4 separate regions of the Homo sapiens genome follow, and all the other regions are linked to region 2. The links come from fine-mapping of genetic effects on gene expression. A gene starts in region 2. Each other region holds a variant in brackets. All regions are shown on one strand. Distances are between the middles of the regions.

Evidence for each region. PIP is the estimated chance that this variant, and not a neighbour inherited with it, causes the effect. A credible set is the group of variants that fine-mapping cannot tell apart.
Region 1: its variant is the best candidate, but not a certain one, in a credible set for the expression of APBA1 in nasal epithelium (TOPMed, PIP 0.74).
Region 3: its variant is the best candidate, but not a certain one, in a credible set for the expression of APBA1 in whole blood (TOPMed, PIP 0.56).
Region 4: its variant is the best candidate, but not a certain one, in a credible set for the expression of APBA1 in whole blood (TOPMed, PIP 0.86).

What each region holds. Positions count from the first base shown.
Region 1 is chr9:69,497,579-69,502,631 of GRCh38, forward strand. The region is part of intron 2 of APBA1 (amyloid beta precursor protein binding family A member 1); the gene reads right to left. Among named protein-coding and RNA genes, the nearest start is that of APBA1, 170 kb to the right of the region's middle. The variant C/T (reference allele first, on the strand shown) is at 3,004.
Region 2 is chr9:69,669,960-69,674,959 of GRCh38, forward strand. APBA1 (amyloid beta precursor protein binding family A member 1) reads right to left here and starts at 2,412. Exons shown (of 13, transcript NM_001163.4): 1 at 2,194-2,412. RefSeq lists silencers at 2,180-2,259, 2,440-2,489.
Region 3 is chr9:69,770,387-69,775,439 of GRCh38, forward strand. The region is part of intron 1 of LOC105376076 (a long non-coding RNA gene); the gene reads left to right. Among named protein-coding and RNA genes, the nearest start is that of PTAR1, 13 kb to the left of the region's middle. The variant CA/C (reference allele first, on the strand shown) is at 2,775.
Region 4 is chr9:69,473,285-69,478,337 of GRCh38, forward strand. APBA1 (amyloid beta precursor protein binding family A member 1) reads right to left here. Exons shown (of 13, transcript NM_001163.4): 3 at 2,764-2,859. It overlaps LOC124902178 (a long non-coding RNA gene), which reads left to right and starts at 979. Exons shown (of 2, transcript XR_007061570.1): 1 at 979-1,068. The variant A/G (reference allele first, on the strand shown) is at 2,280.

The sequences.
Region 1 (5,053 bases), 170 kb before region 2:
ATGAAAGGGTCTTTACAGCAAATTCTTTTGACAATGGCAGTCCCTTGGGGATAAAGTTAAACTCCTCCTTCTGAGCAGTCCACCATGGACCTGCTCTTTCTTCAGGACAACACCTCCTCTTTTCCATTTCCACAGCCTGCCCTAGTCCCAGCTTTTTCTGACATAGCCCCCTGCACCATCTCTGTGCTAGCTCTCACACACCTTCCCTTTTACGCCACTTTGGTTTCATCGTCCATCGGTCACTTCGGGATCTGCAAATCTGCCTCATCTCAGCCAGACAACAAAACAAATGCAGCCCAGGAGTTCGGAATGGTTGACAAGGTCAGTGGGAGAGGACAAGGCCAGCAGCTGCTCTGCCCTAAATTTGAAGCCCAGTAGCTCTTTGCTGGCATGGAACGATGACAGATACCAAATGTGGAAGGCAGAGTTCTCAGATGGCTCCCAATCATCTCCACCTCCTGGTATTCAGCCTCTTGGGTAATCTCCTCCCTGGGGAGGGAGCACGGCTGAGTGACTTACTCTAAGCAATAAAATACAGCAAAGGTGATAGGATATCACCCTGTGACTGGGTTACAAAAAACCATGACTTCCATCTTGCTACCAGACTCCATGACCTTCTTATCCTGCATACTTTATGAAGCAAGATGCCAAGTGTCAGACAGCCCATGTAGCAGAGAACTGAGGACACCTCTGGCCAACAGTCAACTGGGAACTGAGGCCCTCAGCATCAATGCCCATGGGAAGCTGAGTCCTGCCCCACAAGCATGTGAGCTTGAGATGACTGCAGGCCACCTGACCCCCTGATGGCAGCCTCCAAGAGACCCTAATGGAGAGAAACTGTGAGATAGTCAAGGAAGGTTGTTTTATGCCACTAAATTTTGGGGAAATTTGTTACACAGCAATAGATAATTAAGACACTAAATAAGGATTCAGATGAAAGGCTTAAGAGCAGAGGAGGCTTGAAGGTCTCGCTTGGGGCTTGACAAAGGACTAGCTTAGATTGTACACTCTGCACCAGCAGAGCCTGTCTGTGTCAGTCAGAGCCTCTATCTGTCATTGCTGTATCCCTGGGGTCTTGCACAGTGCGTGATCTATAGAAGGATCTAACAACGTTTATTGAATGAGTGGATGATAAATTGTAAGATGCACTTTCAACTTTTGACCTAGAACAGTAGTCACAAACTCTCTGTAGTTCACTGGCAAAATAAGGAACAGCATAGCTTTGAGGCCATATTTCTTATTCCTTTATGTAGCTAGTGTTCAATGAAACACAAAGGTATCAGCAGAGAAACAGCTATGACAGCTCAGCTTAATCACTTTGCATGGCAGACGGTTGAGAACACATTTATACCTCTGATACCATTTGCTTGTGTAAGAAGTTTCCCATCCTTTTCTGAGGTCTGCCTGGAAAACACACTGGGTTCCATTTCTGCTGTCCCAGCAGCGGGTCCTTTGGTTCTAAGGTTATGCTTCTGAATAAGCTTCTGGGATGTTGACTTAAAGGGTATGCCAGCCCCATTTTTCTAAACAGTCTGGATCATATAAGAAAACAAAGTTGGTTTTAGAGCCAACACTGGAATGTATACTCTTCTGCAGCAGGTAAGGGAAAATCGGAGATAAGGATGCCTGGAGTTTTCTTCCTCTTAACAGCACAAATGGAGACAGACTGGGGCTAACTATCCTAGAACCACCCTTCTTCCCTTCCCTAGGAATACATCACATTCCAGCCAAGAATTGATCCACTTGGGGAAATAGGGTTCCAACTGAACACATATTAATCCTAAATTCTGTCTACTTGATTTCAGATCCCATTTCAACTTCATCCCTTGCTAACCGGATCCTGGAAAAATTTTGTCTGTTCAGAACTCTGCAAGGTGTAATCAGCAAGAGGAAATCTCTCAGTTCAGAATACCTTAACAAGAATCCTTCACAAAAAATGGCATCCTTTGGCAGCAAGACAGTTCTTTTCGCTCGCCCTTGTAAGCTTGACAACACAACAGCAAGGTCGACAGGATAAGAGGCTCTAACAAGTCTTAATGAATTAGCATGTGCACTTGACCTTGGTCAGTAGTTTCCTAGCAACGGTCCAAAAAAAAAAAAAATCCATGTCGGTGGCATGCTGAATTCAGGGCAGGGAGAGGGTAACATCAAGGCAATCAAGGCCCCAGATGAAGCCATGAAGCTCCTACACCCTCACTGCAACATTTTTCTTGAAATTAAAAAAAAAAAGTGGATGTAAAAGTACACATGATCAGGGCAAGAGTTCACACCAAGCCCTTACTTCTCAGGATTTTGACAATACCTCCATCTCAGCAGGAGAGTGGCTGGTTTCTGATTAAGAAGCATTAGTGCTGAAATGGTTTCCTGCTTCAAAATACTTTCTCCAGTGGTCTCTGAAATCAGGAGTAGAATGCCAATAAAAGGTAAATGTTATCTGGAGGGGCGGTGCATGTTGCCATTATCACTAATTAGCAGTTTAGTTTGATTTAATCAGACCAACCCTGGAAGGAAAGGCTGACGGTATAATGCTGCTTAAGGTGGAAGCTGAGAACTAGGGTCGCCTGAGTGCCTGACCAGGATGGGCAGCCCAGTGGGGGATCTGAATGCTGAGGACAGCAGAAAGGAAACACTAGCCTAGAGAGGGTGAGGAAGGGCTACTAAAGGCCAGCCCCCTAATTCAGATCGCCAGTAACCAACCCCAAATGTTAAGTGAGCTTTGACTTCCAAATGTAACTGGCACAACAAACTTGTGATTCTTGTTTCACATTTCCATATAGGACTCGATATCTGCAAAACCATTTTCTCTCACAGCTTCCCTGGGACATAAACCTGATTAACTCATTTTACTGATGAGGAAACTGAAGGCTGGGAGGAAAGCAGGTGACAAACTCAAGGTAACTGCAGCAGATCGACTGTGAGCCAAATATTTACATACGATGGACACTCTGAGCAGCGCATCTGTGTGACTTGCTCTGAGAGAGATACAGGAGAACGATGAGACAC[C/T]GACAGTGAATTACAGAGGCAACAGGTTAACTCACGCAAGAAAAGCGGAAAATGAGATCCTAAAGAGTTGAGTGTTAAACTCTGGTCCACAGCTTAAGCTAGCACTTACCAATTTTGACTGAATCTTATTAACACCCGTGCCAAGACCCAACCTCCAGAGGCTCTAATCAAGAAGTCTGGGGCCTTGAAATCTATGTTTAAAGAGCGAAGCCCGGACTTTATCTAATCGGAATGTGACCTGGATAGAGGCGAGATCCGCATGATTACAAGCATGGGGTAGAGGCCAGTCCAGAGAAGCATAAAGACATTTAGCATTTTTCATTTTAAAGATGATCACATTTATAGCCAAATCGCATTTCATAATTCTCCCAGGTCACAAAAAGTCTATTTTCAGCTATTCCTTCCGGGTAAACTGGGGCCAAAATGTTCAGACTGACTCCAATTCTCCTTCAATCCATTACCAGACTTGTTTACTCACTTTTTGGTGTCCCACGGGTAGGGTCTGACCAAGAGGTCAGCTAGGCATGTCAAGCTGAATGTCTGTTGTCTCAATATGAGAAACAACAGGAGAAAAACTGCAAGTGGAACTCTTCAGGGGAGTGAAGTGGCCTGTGTCTAAACAGAAATCCTCCTCTCTTATCGCCGCTCTTAAGAAAGCAGTCAGCGAAGACTGTGTTTCAAAACAAGTGGACTGAGAAACTACATTTTTGGACTCAGAACATGTTGCCAGTTACACTTGTAATGGAAGTATTTTTCATTTTAAAGATGATCATGTTTGTACTCAAATCACATTTCATAACTCCCAGGACAACATGGGCTCCAGGATACAACTGGGTTACATATGAAATTCAATTATCTATGATATATCTGTTCCTCTCCCAGCACCTTCCCTTCTTCTCCAATATGGCCCCAGTACACGTATCACAGAAAATATGAGTGGCTGGGCATGGTGGCTCATGCCTGTAATATGACACTTTGAGAGGCCAATGCTTGAGGCCAGGAGTTTGAGACCAGCCTGGGCAACATAACAAGACTCTGTCTCTACAAAACACACACACACACACACACACACACACACACACACACACACACACACACTAGCTGGGCATGATGGTATGCACCTGTAGCCCTAGCTAGTAGGTAGGTTGAGGCAGGAGGATTCCTTGAGCCCAGGAGTGTGAGGCTGCAGTGAGCTAGGATTGTATCCTTGCACTCTAGCCTCGGTCACAGAGTGAGATTGTCTCTAAAGAGTGCATAGTCGGGGCAGAGGACACAATTTTTCTAAAGACTACTGGGCAGTTTATTGAGCATACACTTATTCAGCAAGCATGTCAGACACCCGAACTGTGGCCTATGAGCTGCAACTCTGACTAGCAACTGACAACAAAATTCTCTCTAGCTAAATCGTCCATTTATTTCCCTGTTGTTTGTCCCATCACTTCTTGGCACAGTTTCACATATATACTGTCTGGTGAGACAATCCATCAAAAAGTTGAGAAAGATTCCTCTTGGGAGAGGGGTCAGGCAAAGTGAAAAAAATTGGAGCCCAGAGGGTTAAAAAAGATCAATCTTCTCCATCAGTTTCTTTTATTCCACAGAACACACAGTAACTGGAAAACGTGCCTTCTGGTGTGCAGATCACCAGACAAGTTTTGCTCTGGTGATTTCTAGATGGTGATGGTCTGATGTCAGTGGGGGAGACACCTGCCAGGCAACACATCTTGCCTAGAGCTGAACCGACAGGTGAAACTCTAAAGACAAGCTAAAATAATTGGAGGCAATACTTCCAATCCAGGTGGTGAGATCAAAGCAAACATTCTCCCATCTCTTTTTGTTTTTTTTTCCTTGATTGAAATGAATCATTTGTTCTTCAAATGGGATTTCAGGGTGAAGCCTTTTCATTTTAAAGGTGTACCAGTAAAATCATTAAATCTTTAAAAAAATTACTCCGGTTGCATTAGGTTCTCACAGTTCATAGAAAAACGTCTCATTTTGTTGTTGTTATTGACAACTAAAGTCTCCTAGAGCATTATTCTCCACTGACAGAAAT
Region 2 (5,000 bases):
GATGACTTTTTTTTAAACCAAAATCTCTTAGAATGGCTTTTAAATTCCCTAAGTACTTTTCTCAGAAAGACATTTGGCATAACAAATAAGAGAGTAAAGAACTAAGATTCAAAATTCATTTTTATAAATCTATCCTTAAATCTTGGATGACAGCCAACAACCAACCTCACATTAAAATCTTAGAAGGCTTGACTTGAAGAACATGGGGAAATTTACTTTACATAGACAGCTTCAAGAGCACCTTGTCTATATATCATTAAATAAGATACATGGGAAGAAAAAAAAGCATATGTGGATAGCCCTAGTTTTATTATTTTCACAACGATATCATGCAATCTTTGCCCATAAAAGAAAGCAAAACAAAAATTTTAAAAAAGAAAAATAAATCTCTGGTGCCAACATGTTGTATATTTACTTGTGTAGCCATGACTGCTACGGGCTTTTCGAAGAGAACCGGGCAGCCAGTTTGGATTCCGACAATGCAGTAGAATTTAAGGTGTTATGACTAAAACATGTCCTAAGCAGATTAAGCTAGTCATACAACATTTTAATAAAGAAGTGTCGAGATATTAAGTGTAAAGTGCACTCATTCCTATGAATACCGCAGGAGAAACATAGGTGAGGGGGAATCACACTGCCCTGGATACACATGAATATGCCATCTCCCTGCCTACCTCTACCCAACCCTACCTACACACACCTATCTTTACCACGCAGAGACAATTAAACAGCCATAGACTCTGGATGCATTTCTGTGTCCTTGTTCCCACTGGGTGAGTTGTTGCCAGCCTGACATTTTTCCAAATTCCCTACTAGTGGGCTCTATCAGGTAGGAAAGCAGGGACTTTACTGACCTGGGACCCCATCGCTGTGGGTCTCAGGAGATTTCAGTTTCCAAATGATACACGGCACCACCTAGCTATTGTGACAGCTGGGAGAGTGGATGTCACCAGCAGTAGAAATAAAGTATCCTGTTTCCTGAGGAAAACGCCCTGGCTGTGTGATGCTGACCAAGTGGGCACCAAACATTTCTCCGTGTGATATTTTTCTTCTTTTTAAAAGACCGCCCCCCGCCCCACCGCATCTCTCTATACGTATACACCTCCAGAGTTCATTCTAAAAGAACCAACACAAAGACCATCCATCCTCTAGCCATAAGGTTTTCAGTGCTTAAATGTGGAAGGAGAAGGTCTAGCTAGCATTGAAAGTTGTGGGGACAGGAAGAGGAATCTGATCATTCAACATCCTTCTCCTTCTGGTCAGACAAGAGAAAAACAATAGAAACTGCACAGTCAGGGAGTACAAGACCCTTATGGAACAGGTGCTAAGGAGAGAAGTAGTATCACAGGATGGAAGGCCCCTTCAAAACCAGGTACATTAGCAAGCCCAGAATGTGTAACGGTTATCCTATTTCCCTGCCATGTGCCTCAAAGCAACATGCTCACTTCCACATCCCCATGTCATGAGGCCAGAGGAAGGGGAAGCGAGAATCCCTACACTGGGCCATCCACACGCAGGAGCAGAACAGACACTGTGCTCAGAGTTGCAGGGTCAAAATAACAAACACTGTCCCACAGTCTTAGCCGGTGACATCAAGTAAGGGCAGCGGCAGATCTCTGGATTTGGGGCGCAGTTTGGGGAACGTGGATGCAACCACACGCGTACACACACATATACAGGATTTTACAAACCGGCCCCTATCCCACTGCCTCCCTCCACACTTCACACACCAAGTGCATCCTGCCCACCTCACCGTTTCCATCATCACATTCTTTCTCCAGGAGAGTCAGCCGAGAGATGAGGGGGTCCTAGCGGGGATTCCTGGAAATGTCACCCCCCAACACCTCCGTCCGCCACCCCATCCCCTCTGCTGTACCTTTTACACACACACTCTCACACACTCACTCCTGCCATGACTGTCATCAGGCCCGCCTGCTGCGCCCGAAGCCCGGCATCTCAGCGGGCACCGGACCCCAGGCGTCTCGCTCGCAACGCCGCCTTCCCCCGCCTCGCTAGCTGATGGTTCCAGGCACTGCCTCCTGGATGTCGCCTGCTGCCTCCGCTCCTCCGCACTATTGTTCCAGGCAGCCCCTCTCGCGTCCGGGGGCGCCCTTTGGCGAGGACCCGGGCTCCGTCGGGGGCCGCATCAGCGCCGGGCACCCCTTCTCACCCACCCCTCCCTGGCTGTGGTACCTTGCCTGACAGCTGGGTCCGCGGGCCCGCGGGAGCAGGCGGCGCTAGTGACAGCGCTGGTGCCAAGCCTGGGAATAAAGCTCCGCTCCAGCCGCTGCTGCCTCCAGCGCCACCATCTTCTCCCGCCGCAGCTGCCGCCGCCGCCGCCGCCGCCGGGACCGCAGCCGCCCTCGCCCAGCTCCGGCTCCGCAGCCGCTGCTCGGACCCCTCCGGTCTCGCGGCCCCACCCCCTTTCCCCACCCTCCCTCCCGCCCTCCAGCTAGCTCGCTGGCCCCTCGTGACGCGCGCTGGGGCCGGGCGGGCCTGCGAGGGAGGGCGCGGGGGAGCGCGCGCGCGCACGCCGCCTGCTAGTAGCGCCCCTGCCTCCCTCGCCCACTCGCGTGCGCGCGCGGCCCGCGAGCCCGCGGCGGCGGCGGCGGCACCGCTGATGTCCTCCGTGGGCCGCCGGCTGCAGCGCCCCTGCCCCGGCGCCGGTGGGCGTGCGGCACACCCGCGCCTCTCGCCTTCCCTCGCGTCCGGGTTCCGAAGGGCCCGCCCTGCCTTTCGGAATGGGTTCCACAGCCCCATCCTCTGGCTCCCGGCCGGACGCAAGGAGGGGAAAATGCAGCTGCATCCCCGAGGGGACTGACGGGGGCCTCCACCCTCCTCGGTGGCAACCCAGGTGGTCCCCAGTTTCCTAGCCAGCAGCTGTGGCCAACCTCTGCGCGAAGCAACGGGCCACGCTGCAGGACCACGAAGCCAGGCAGCCGCGTCGACTCCTGCAGGGTGTTCTCTCCGGAGTGACTCCCGAGCTTTCCCGCTTCCCAGGCCCCTTAGATATCGCCTGCGCTTCAAATTCGGAGATTGACGGCGTCTCCGGAATGCGTCGCAGTCCTGCGAGTTCTCCGCCAGGGGGAGAGCCGCGCGGGCTTGGGCCTGAGCGAAGACAGCCGGGCTGCAGCCCTCCAGGGGAACTGCCGAGTCCCGCCGGGGACAGCGGAGAGCCTGCGGATTGTGAAGCCGAGGAAGGCTCGGCTTGGTTTTCCTACCCGCTCCTCAGTTCTGGTTGATCGGAACTTAAGTGTCTTTGAGCCTAGCACAGGCCATCCGCCCTAGATATGGCTCCTAACTCGAGAGGCCACCCTTTGCGGCAGGGACCAGGTGGCAAGTGCTGTGCATTAATGAAAAGCTGTGGGCTAGACAGGCCCCGGGAGGCCTGGGCTCTGGCGCCAGCCCCACCTGTAATTGGCAATGCAATAGCTAAATCATTCCCCCTCTTAGAAACACAGATTTTTCCATAATAATGTTATAATGCACAAAGCCTTGTAGTTTGCAAAGCCCTCTCCGCACATGTATTCTCCAGTAAAATGAAGATAAGCGCTGGTTATCCAGATCCCTTGGGAAATGGATCTTTTACCACACCGTGTTTCCATATTATTTTAAGCACGTCTCTAGAGAAGTCTGGGGGTGTAGCCTAAAGCATTCTGAAAGTCTTGTTTTAGCTTTAAAATTCATATGAATTTTGCATTGTACTTTGTAATTTTTTTTTGCTTTAATAAAACAATAGCTACCTTCTCAAAAAGATTTTAGTAAAATTTAAAATTATATACTAGGAAGATGTCTGCTTGTCCTGTGACATTACTCATATTTTTTCCGGTGAATACTTATTTGGCATATGTACGAGCCAGACATGGTCCTTTTCCACCAGAGCTCACAGTACGCTGAAGGAAATAGGTATTCAACTATCAGACTGGCCAGGCGCGGTGGCTCACGCCTGTAATCCCAGCACTTTGGGAGGCTGAGTCCAGCAGATCACTTTAGGCCAAAAGTTTGAGATCAGCCTGGTCAACATGGCGAAACCCTGTCTCTACTAAAAACACAAAAATTAGCCGGGCGTGTTGGTGCACGCCTGTAATCCTAGCTACTCGGGAAGCTGAGGCACGAGAATGCTTGAACCGGGAGGCGGAGGTTGCAGTGAGCCGAGATCGCGCTACTGCACTCCAGCCTTGGTGTCTCAAAAAACAAACAAACAAATAAAACAATCAGACTAAGTGCAACTGTGATAAATTCTCAACTGCAAAGGCGCTAAGGTGCACGGGAAAACCTAATGTGGACTCTGGGACTAGGTAAGGCTTTCTAAGGAAATGACATTTCAGATCCCCCAGGAGAGGCAGCATTGAGACACTTCCAGGTAAAGGGAAGGAAATGTGAAAAGGCCCAAGCAGGTGGGGCCGAAGTGAGATGAGACTGGAGAGGCAGGCAGACTTTGTGGACCGTTTTTAAATAATGATTTTGTCTTATGAGCCTGGAAAGTCAATGAAGGGTTGCCAAGAGTTGGGAGCAGGCAAGCAGGATCACATTTCCGTTCCTGAAAGATGGCTGAGGTGGTTTGTGAGGAACTGATTCGTGGAGGGTCAGGATCCAGGGCGGAGAGAGTCTGAGCTTATCCTACTTAGTGAGTGTTTAGGGTTTTCTGTTTTTGCACTAACTGCTCTTTTGATTGTTTTTAGTTCTTGCCTCTGCTCTCCTGTGTACGCATCTAGGAGGCTTTCAGAGTGCTTCTCTGTAATAGTTTCTGTTTTGTTACTTTTAATCCACTGCAGTTTTAGGAAGGAAATGAACCCTGTTAGAATTTCAGGTTAAATAAGAGAATATAGGTTCTGAGTGAGAGGCTCTTTTCTGTGCATACACTTATTGCCATTTGGTTTGCTATCTCAGAGATCTTTCTGCTTATTTTCTACTTTTTGTGTTGCCTTTCCAGTTAGACTAGGTTCTTAGATGCATGAATAAGGGTTACATTATTGCTTTAATAATATCCTGGAATCTTA
Region 3 (5,053 bases), 100 kb after region 2:
ATTAGTTCATACATTGTATTAGTCAGGGTTCTCTTAGAGGGAGAGAACTAATAGGATATATTATATCCTATAGGATATAATATATCCTATTAATATATATATATACTGAGAGAGACAGGAGTTTATTAAGTATTAACTTACATGATCGCAAGCTCCCATAATAGGCTGTCTGAAGCTGAGGAGAAAGGAAGCCAGTCTGAGTCCCAAAACTGAAGAATTTGGAGTCCGATGTTCAAGGGCAAGAAGCACCCAGCACAGGAGAAAGATGTAGACTAGGAGGCTAGGCCCATCTTGTCCTTTGAGTTTTTTTCCTGCCTGCTTTATATTCGCTGGCAGCTGATTAGGTTGTGCCCACCAGATTAAGGGTGGGTCTGCCTTTCCCAGCCCACAGACTCAAATATTAATCTCCTTTGGCAACATCCTCACAGACACACCCAGGGGATCAATACTTTGTATCCTTCAATCCAATCAAGTTGACATTCAGTATCAACTGTCACATAAATATACCAGAGTCCCTGACTATCTAAGCAAACTGTTAGCCACTGTCCATGAATCAATGTTGACCTACTCCTCTGCCATGTCTCTTTTTAGTCTAAGTGGACTGCTAGATATACAGTCTGAAGTTCTGCCTACTTGGAGAATCTCCCTTCTCAGTTTTTAAAGACTATTTCTGAGTGAGGCTGTCATGCTAAAGCCATCCACTTTTGGGTAGTACCAACATATTGTGGAGAGCTGTTTGGAAACAAAACGAGGCCCAAATTTTCTCTTCCTCAGTCACATGTCATAGAGAATTCTCCATGAGGCCATATATGTAGATCGAGGGAGAGATATCAATGCAATAGGAGTAAGTACAGTCATTCCTCAGTATCTGTGGAGGATTGTTTCCAGGATCCCTGTGGATACCAAAATCTGTACATGCTCATGTCGCTTATATAAAATGGCACAATTTTTGTATATATCCTATGCACATCTTCCTATATAGTTTGCTTTCATTTTGTTTTTTGGTTTTTTTGAGATGGAGTTTCGCTCTTGTTACCCAGGCTGGAGTGCAATGGTGCAATATCGGCTCACTACAACCTCCACCTCCCGGATCCAAGCGATTCTCCTGCCTCAGCCTCCCAAGTAGCTGGGATTACAGGCACGTGCCACTACTTCCAGCTAATTTTTTGTATTTTTAGTAGAGACGGGGTTTCACCATGTTGGCCAAGCTGGTCTCAAACTCCTGACCTCAGATGATCCACCTTCCTTGGCTTCCCAAGTGCTGGGATTATAGGTGTGAGCCACCGCACCCAGCCTATACTTTAAATCATCTCTAGATTACTTCAAATACCTAATAAGATGTAAATGCTATGTAAATGGTTGTGATACTATATTGATTCTTTTAATCTGTATTATGTTTTTATTTTTTCTGAATATTTTTGATGATCATTGAGTTGAATCCAGGAATGCAGAACCCACTGATACTGAAGGTGTCTGGGTCACTTACTCTTGCAACTTGTGTCTTTGGGAACTGTTTGAGCCTGATCTTGTATATCTCATTTACAGCATTGTGGTCCTGAGTCAGGTAACACCGTAGCTCTCTATGGAAAGCTCATGTCACATGACTAGTTAGTGTTTCTTAGTCAGATATTCAGTCCTGGGGGCCCAATAGCAACCCCAGAACGGTTTCTCAAAAGTGTAATGCTTATCAACGAAAAGGGTTGGCTTTTCCCCCAAAACCCAAGGGGTATTGCCATGGCATTTTTTATTTGCTACTGTTAGAACATTTCAATGTGCTCTTTCAGCACCATTCAATCTGCTGAGTCATGTGGCCCAAGATCAGCTTGCGTAGAAGCTTAGAGCTGCCACAGAAGCTTCTGTTGCTCTGGAATCCATTCAAATCTATGGGTTACTCAGTAAGTGACTCAAAGTAGAACATTCAACTAGGGTATATGTCACAATTTGAATCCAAAGTGGCCCTTGTGTCTCCTTCTCAGTGGTAGAGTGTGCAAGATGAAGCAACTTGCCCTTCACCTTGGTAGAAATGTGCCATGCCTCAACTAATGGACTCCTAGAAACTTCACTAAGGTGGCAGGCCCTTGAATGTTTTAAGGGTTTATCTTCCATCCTCTGTCATGCATGTGTCTAGCAAGATATCTAGGGTACTTCCGGCTAATTCCTGCACACAAAGTTGAATCCCTCAAAGTAATAAAGGAGTAAAAGCCCTCATTATATTCTCATAGACTCCTTTATATATCAAATGCATTTAAACAGTTGTCTAATTAGTTCCATATCTTTATCCATCTACAGAGTGTAAATTTCACAAGGGCTGGAACTGTATTTCTCCTGTTTATTTTATGTACCACTGTGTATGTTGCATTGCAATATAGTGGGCTCTGAGTACTTAAATGGATGGATGGATGAAAGGAAAGGATGGGAAACAATAGGGAAGGGTAGAATAACCTACATGTATAAATGTAATAAAGAAATAGTAGAGGAAGTCACTTGGAATTTAGTCAGAGGCCTAATCATGAGGAACCTTGAGGCCATATTTTGGCAGTGCCAAGGTGGGCGGATCACTAGGTCAGGAGTTCAAGACCAGCCTGGCCAACATTGTGAAACCACATCTCTACTAAAAATACAAAAATTAGCTGGCTGTGGTGGCATGTGTTTGTAATCCCAGCTACTTGGGAGGCTCAGGCAGGAGAATCGCTTGAACCCGGGAGGCAGAGGTTGCAGTGAGCCAAGATTGCACCACTGCACTCCAGCCTGGGCGACAGAGCAAGACTCTGTCT[CA/C]AAAAAATAAAAAATAAAAAATAAAAAATTCTGAAGAGTTAGAGCCATTGAAAGCATTTTTGCTTCTTTGTTGAAATCCGCTCATTCTTCAAGAGTGTTCTTATTAACTTATACATTGTTTTAGTTATACAAAAATATATAAATGCACACACACACACACACACACATATATATGCTTCTACACTCCTGGGTTTTATCACATAACAAAATGAGATAATCCATTTCATCTTTATTGTTGTTTCCCTGGTACCTGGTACAGTTCCTGAATATAGTAAGCACTGCAAATGTAGTGCTGAGTCAGCTGAACAAACAAAGACCCAATTCCATTGCCACCTTTCCCATGAAGTCTTCATTAATCACCTCAGTTCGAAATGCTCTCCTAGAAATAGGAATGCTTTTACACTATTGGTGGGAGTGTAAATTAGTTCAACCATTATGGAAGACAGTGTGGTGATTCCTCAAGGATCTAGAACCAGAAATAGACCCAACAATCCCATTACTGGGTATGTACCCAAAGGTTTATCAATCATTCTACTATAAAGATACATGCACACATATGTTTATTTCAGCACTATTCACAATAGCAAAGACTTGGAACCAACCCTAATGCCCATCAACAATAGACTGGATAAAGAAAATGTAGCACATATACACCATGGATAAAGAAAATATGGCACATACACACCATGGAATACTATGCAGCCATAAAAAAAAATGTGTTCATGTCCTTTGCAGGGACATGGATGAAGCTGGAAACCATTATTCTAAGCAAACTAACACAGGAACAAAAAACCAAACACCATTGATTCTCATTCATAATTGAGAGTTGAACAATGAGAACATATGGGCACAGGGAGGTGAACATCACACACCAGGGCCTGTCGTGGTGTGGAGGGTAAGGAGAGGGATAGCATAAGGAGAAATACCTAATGCAGATGATAGGTTCATCGGTGCAGCAATCCACCATGGCACATGTATACCTATGTAACAAACCTGCACGTTCTGCACATATATTCCAGAACTTAAAAAGTATAACAATGAAAAAAAAAAAAGAAAAAAGAAATGCTTTCCTATAATCTTGGACTCCACTGTACTTTTATAGCCTTTGTTTGGCACTTTTCATATATGACCTTGTTTTACAGTTATTTTTGTAAATCTCTAATATCTTTTTCTAAGTTGAAGTCATTGTCAGATTCATTTTTGTAACCCAACAACATGGTACAGTTCCTTATATGAGGCAGATATTAAGTATATATGTATTGAATGAAAAAAAGAGACAATGTATTTACTTTTTTATGGTTCATGTTATGAGTAGCAAAGAATTAATGTAATGAGAATCATAATTCTTAAAATTTGTCATCAATTTTCACAATTACCGTAGATATATTTTATTCTCTAATTCGATGTTATTTTTTCACCAATTGTGTGAGCGTGGAGAATATAGGAAAACCTTCATTTTGTAAAAAGTTATAAATAATTATGTAAGTCTTTTTAAAATTATTTTTTAAATTGAGATAGTCCCAAAACATAAAATTCACCCTTTGAAGCATGTAATTTAGTGGTTTTTAGTGTATTAACAAGATTATACAACCATTACCACTAATTCCAGAATATTTTGTTTTCTTTTTTTCTTTTTCTTTTTTTTTCCTGAGACAGATTCACCGTCTGTCACCCAGGCTAGGGTGCAGCAGGGCGATTTTGGCTCACTGCAACCTCTGCCTCCCGAGTTTGAGCAATTCTTCTTGCCTCAGCCTCCCGAGTAGCTGGGACTACAGGCGCCTGCCAACACGCCTGGCTAATTTTTGTATTTTTAGTAGAGACGGGGTTTCACCATGTTGGCCAGGCTGTTCTCGAACTCCTGACCTCAGGTGATTCACCCGCCTCAGCCTCCCAAAGTTCTGGAATTACAGGCTTAAGCCACTGCACCCAGCCAGAATATTTTCATTATTCTTCTCCTCCACTCTCCCCTTCCCCTGGACGTAGCTTTGATGAAGGTTCTTGCTTTGTCTCTTCAGACTGCTTTTTCTTGCCCTTTAGCTTGCCTTGTAATCTTTTGCTAAAAACTTCGTATAATGTATGGGATAATAGAAAAGTTATAATGGTAATGTGGCCAGAAGCTGGGCTGTGTTTAATGTTTGCTGAAACCGTAAGCGCCAGTGGATTCAGTTTCCTCAGGTGTACTTGTATCTTTCTTCCTTGTTATCTTTAGGTTTTCCTAAGAACTTCTTAGATAGAATCTGTGGCCTGTCACTTTTTTAGTTGAAATCTACTGGTATAA
Region 4 (5,053 bases), 200 kb before region 2:
CAGGATGGTTTAAAGAAAAGAAAAAAACCCTCATAACTTCATGGTATGCAGATGGAAGCTAGCATCTTCATAGGGGCCTAAAACTTTTAAGTTATTATTTCCCAACCATTTCCCTACCCTTGTCCCAAGTAACTATAGCCTGGGGTAATGAGAGTTTGTTTAATCAGAATTGCTTAGCCTCCAGGTATATCTAAGAAGTCAATTCACATTTTCTTGCTCTATTTTGATACTTTTCTGAATGCTAGACAGTGTCCAGATTTTAGCAGAAGCTACAAAAGAATTACTTTGGTCTATAGCTCTAAAAGCTGCAGTTTTATTAAGAGCTACACCAACATGGCACATGTATACGTATGTAACTAACCTGCATGTTGTGCACATGTACCCTAAAACTTGAAGTATAATTAAAAAAATTAAAAAAAAGATAAGTTTGAAAAAAATAATTTGGCAAAATAAAGTTTACCATCTTTAAAAAAAAAGCTGCAACAGAGGGCATTTGGTACATTCACTTATTCTCTATGCATGAGCTCATGACTAGCTTTCTTAGTCTCTGGGGTAGTAAATTTTTTTAAAAAGAGTTTTGTGAAATGAAAGAATCTCTAATTATTACACACAAATAGGATTTTCATCATCATTTCTAAGGATATATAGAAACATGAGCCAAGTCTTGTAGGAACTGAGAAACTAACAAATTTGCCTTATTATATCTAATGCATAATCAAATGCTGAATATTTAGATGTCTGGTTAGCCCTTTATTTCACATGTGGACTGAGATGAACATCAGTTGATCCTTAACTTTCAAGAATAAATAAATAAAGTTGCATTTAAAAAGCTAAAGGCTAAGATCTTTGGGGTTTGGGTTTGGGGGTCACACAAATCGACTCGTGCAGAACTTGGAGGCACAATTGGACAACTGGAACAATGACAGACAAGGTACCTTGTCCATGTAGTCTGTGACCTGCAAACACTTTCTACTCCAGCAGTGGCAGATCTTGGCAGTTAAGAGCACGGGTTCCCATGAGTTCTGGATTTGAATCCTGGCTGACCACTTGTGAGCTCTACAATCTCAGGTAAGTTATTCAACCTCTTAGCTTTTTCAACCAGCAAATGAGGACAGTGATACCTACCTCACAGAATTATTTTAAGAATTAAATGAGACACTATCTGTGATTTTTCTCAGCCCAGTTCCTGGAACATTGTCAATGCTCAAGAAACGATAGTGCTCATGACTGTTATCATCAGGGCACCTGTCCTTCTTTTCTTCTTACTATTTGTTCTCACCCAACCATGTGATATAAGAATGAAGCAAACTGTGGAACGGTGGGAACAGCAGAAACTGTGCCCTTGTCACTTGTGCTCCCAATGGCCAAGTGTCTGAGGCTCAAGACCAGAGGAGACCAAAGTATATTTCTAGTCTAAATTCTAATGTTGGTGTCATTTCAGAGAAGGTCTATGTTTGTTTGTTTGGTTTAATATGAACAGATTAATAAAAAATACTTTTCCTTTGTGTAAATATTTAATGGCAAATATATGGTATTCAAGGGTGCCTTAAGGGTAAATTTTAACTAAGACTCCCTTTAAAAGCGATCTGCCACTCAGTTTAAACAGAGATTTCTTTTTCATTGCATTTAACATAAAATTATCAGCAAAATGAGGGAAAAGGAAACCATCGTTCATCATGTGGTTTACCTCTTTAACACATCTCCTCAGTGTTGATGAGAGAGCAGCTATATTTAGAGTGAGCTGAGCCCACACACAGATTATGGCGCAGACCAACATTTACCTGATGTTGGCTCATTAGCAGGTGTGGGTGGCAGTTCACTAGGTGTAAAAGGACCCTGGGTACGGGGGAAGGCAGTGTCTCCCCTCTGGGGCTGCCCTTTCTCAGACCCAGACACCTCAATGGGAGAAAGCAGCATCTTCTCACTGAAATGCTCCACATAAGCAAGGCGACCACAGAATTTGTTGTCCAAAAGGGATACTTTAGAGCTGCACTGTCTGGCAGTCTGCAGCCACACGTGGCTATTTAAGTTAATTAAAATGGGATAAAATGAAAACTTCAGTTCCTCAGTTACACTGGCCACATTTCCAGGGTTTGACAGGCACATGAGGCTAATGACTACCATAGTGGACAGAGCAGAAGTGGAACATTTCCAGCACCGTGGAAAGTTCTCGCAGGCGGCACTGCACCAGCAAGAGAGAAGGGCGCTCATAAGATGGGCTGCCTGGACAACAGGTGTGAACTGGAACCACACCCTAGGTAAACTGGGAATGTATGGCC[A/G]CTCTATTCTTACGAAAGATATCTCATTTGGGCCTGAAATAAAGGGTATTTAAGAAACTAACACATTTCCCAAAGCACACAGCAACTGCAAGCCCATGGCATCAGCAGGCATGTAACGCCAGGAGGAAAGATGCTGTACGTCGAGTTTTTGGTGTCTGAGGTCAAGTGCTGTTCAACAGAATTTCCTGCAGTGATGCAAATGCTCTGTAATCCACCCTGTCCGAGCACTTGAAATGTGGCTACTGTGCTTGAGGAAATAAACTTTTCATTTTATTCATTAATTAGGCACCTGCAGCCAGTGGCTATCAAACTGGATGACATGGCTTTAACAGGTGAACTGCACACTGGAGAGGAGAAATCAGGATTGTTCTCACCAGGGTAATGTGGGTCAGGAGCGCTGTAGGATGCTGTATTAGGAAGCACAGAACAGTATTAGAGTAAAGCAAAATGGCCCAATGGCTTTGGTAACAAAACAGCACCCTACCTCTTTATTAGTGGACGCTTCCACAGGGTCACTGGGGTGAAGAGATGTGCTTGATGACTCTGCACCCAAGGGGGAGGAGCTGCCAGGAGACGGAGACTAGAACACAGCAAGAGGAAACACAGTGAGAACTTGAGAGACTCGGCAGACACTTGGCTGGGGGAAAGGGGCCGGGAGAGAGAAGCAAAGCAGAACACAATCGAACAGACACTGCAGTGGGGAGAAAACCTCTTAAAAAGGAGCTGCCAACTGTACATAAAACACTTGTGGTTTTCAAGCTTTCTTTTTCAAGTCCTGCCATGCTTTCAAAGGAGCTTTCATAGCTATGGGCCGTTTTTCCCCTTAGGCCAAATGTTGAAAGAAAATACAGAAAAGGTTGAAATTAAAAAATCCTAAATGAATTGAGCTAAGGATATTACACAAACATGTTTAAAACATTTTTTTCTTACTGATGAAGCCAAATATTTAGGGTACCGAATGTCTTATAAAATTGCCTGCCCCAAATGAAAAAGTAAAAATTAAAACACACATTTTTAAAGAGGTAGCTGGGCCTGATTTTGATGGCTAGAAACCATACCACCTGTATTTTCCTAGTCAATTCAGATTTCAAATATTTTGTCTGATTTAGTCTACAGGCTATTGAAAATTCAGAGACATTTCAGCATTTTAACATCCAAACACTACCCTGGATGCTCTTAGAACAGTTCAAAAATCCTTTGTCAAACGGTGTATCGGAAAATAAGGCTTAGAAAAATAGGCTCAGGGAGAATGGCCTGGTTGGGTGTGGTATTGCCTGGGCTGATGGGACCCCAGCTCCCTGTGCAGGCAGGCCCTGCTAGACGTGTATAGGAAGCTCCCAGGTCAGTGTACACAGAAGGTGCTCCATAAACATCTTCTGAATGGATGGGCAAATAAAACAAGCAAGCACAGGGATGGGACTGATACAGACCCGGAAAACACTCCCCAGCCTATAGCCAAACATTGTTGTGTGCTTCTGAAATCTTGGGAGATGAAAGGAATCCTCAGGTGAGCCACAGAGATGCTTAAGAATTCCACAGCAGGGGGCGGCGGAGCCAAGATGGCCGAATAGGAACAGCTCCAGTCTACAGCTCCCAGCGTGAGCGACACAGAAGATGGGTGATTTCTGCATTTCCATCTGAGGTACTGGGTTCATCTCACTAGGGAGTGCCAGACAGTGGGCGCAGGTCAGTGGGTGCGCGCACCGTGCGCCAGCCGAAGCAGGGCGAGGCATTTCCTCACTTGGGAAGTGCAAGGGGTCAGGGAGTTCCCTTTCTGAGTCAAAGAAAGGGGTGACGGACGCACCTGGAAAATCGGGTCACTCCCACCCGAATATTGCGCTTTTCGGACCGGCTTAAAAAACCGCGCACCACGAGATTATATCCTGCACCTGGCTCAGAGGGTCCTACGCCCACGGAGTCTCACTGATTGCTAGCACAGCAGTCTGAGATCAAACTGCAAGGCAGCAGCGAGGCTCGGGGAGGGGCGCCCGCCATTGCCCGGGCTTGCTTAGGTAAACAAAGCAGCCTGGAAGCTCGAACTGGGTGGAGCCCACCACAGCTCAAGGAGGCCTGCCTGCCTCTGTAGGCTCCACCTCTGGGGGCAGGGCACAGACAAACAAAAGGCAGCAGTAGCCTCTGCAGACTTAAATGTCCCTGTCTGACAGCTTTGAAGAGAGCAGTGGTTCTCCCAGCACGCAGCTGGAGATCTGAGAACGGGCAGACTGCCTCCTCAAGTGGGTCCCTGACCCCTGACCCCCGAGCAGCCTAACTGGGAGGCACCCCCCAGCAGGGGCACACTGACACCTCACACGGCAGGGTATTCCAACAGACCTGCAGCTGAGGGTCCTGTCTGTTAGAAGGAAAACTAACAAACAGAAAGGACATCCACACCAAAAACCCATCTGTACATTACCATCATCAAAGACCAAAAGTAGATAAAACCACAAAGATGGGGAAAAAACAGAACAGAAAAACTGGAAACTCTAAAACGCAGAGCGCCTCTCCTCCTCCAAAGGAACGCAGTTCCTCACCAGCAACAGAACAAAGCTGGATGGAGAATGACTTTGACGAGCTGAGAGAAGAAGGCTTCAGACGATCAAATTACTCTGAGCTACGGGAGGACATTCAAACCAAAGGCAAGGAAGTTGAAAACTTTGAAAAAAATTTAGAAGAATGTATAACTAGAATAACCAATACAGAGAAGTGCTTAAAGGAGCTGATGGAGCTGAAAACCAAGGCTCGAGAACTACGTGAAGAATGCAGAAGCCTCAGGA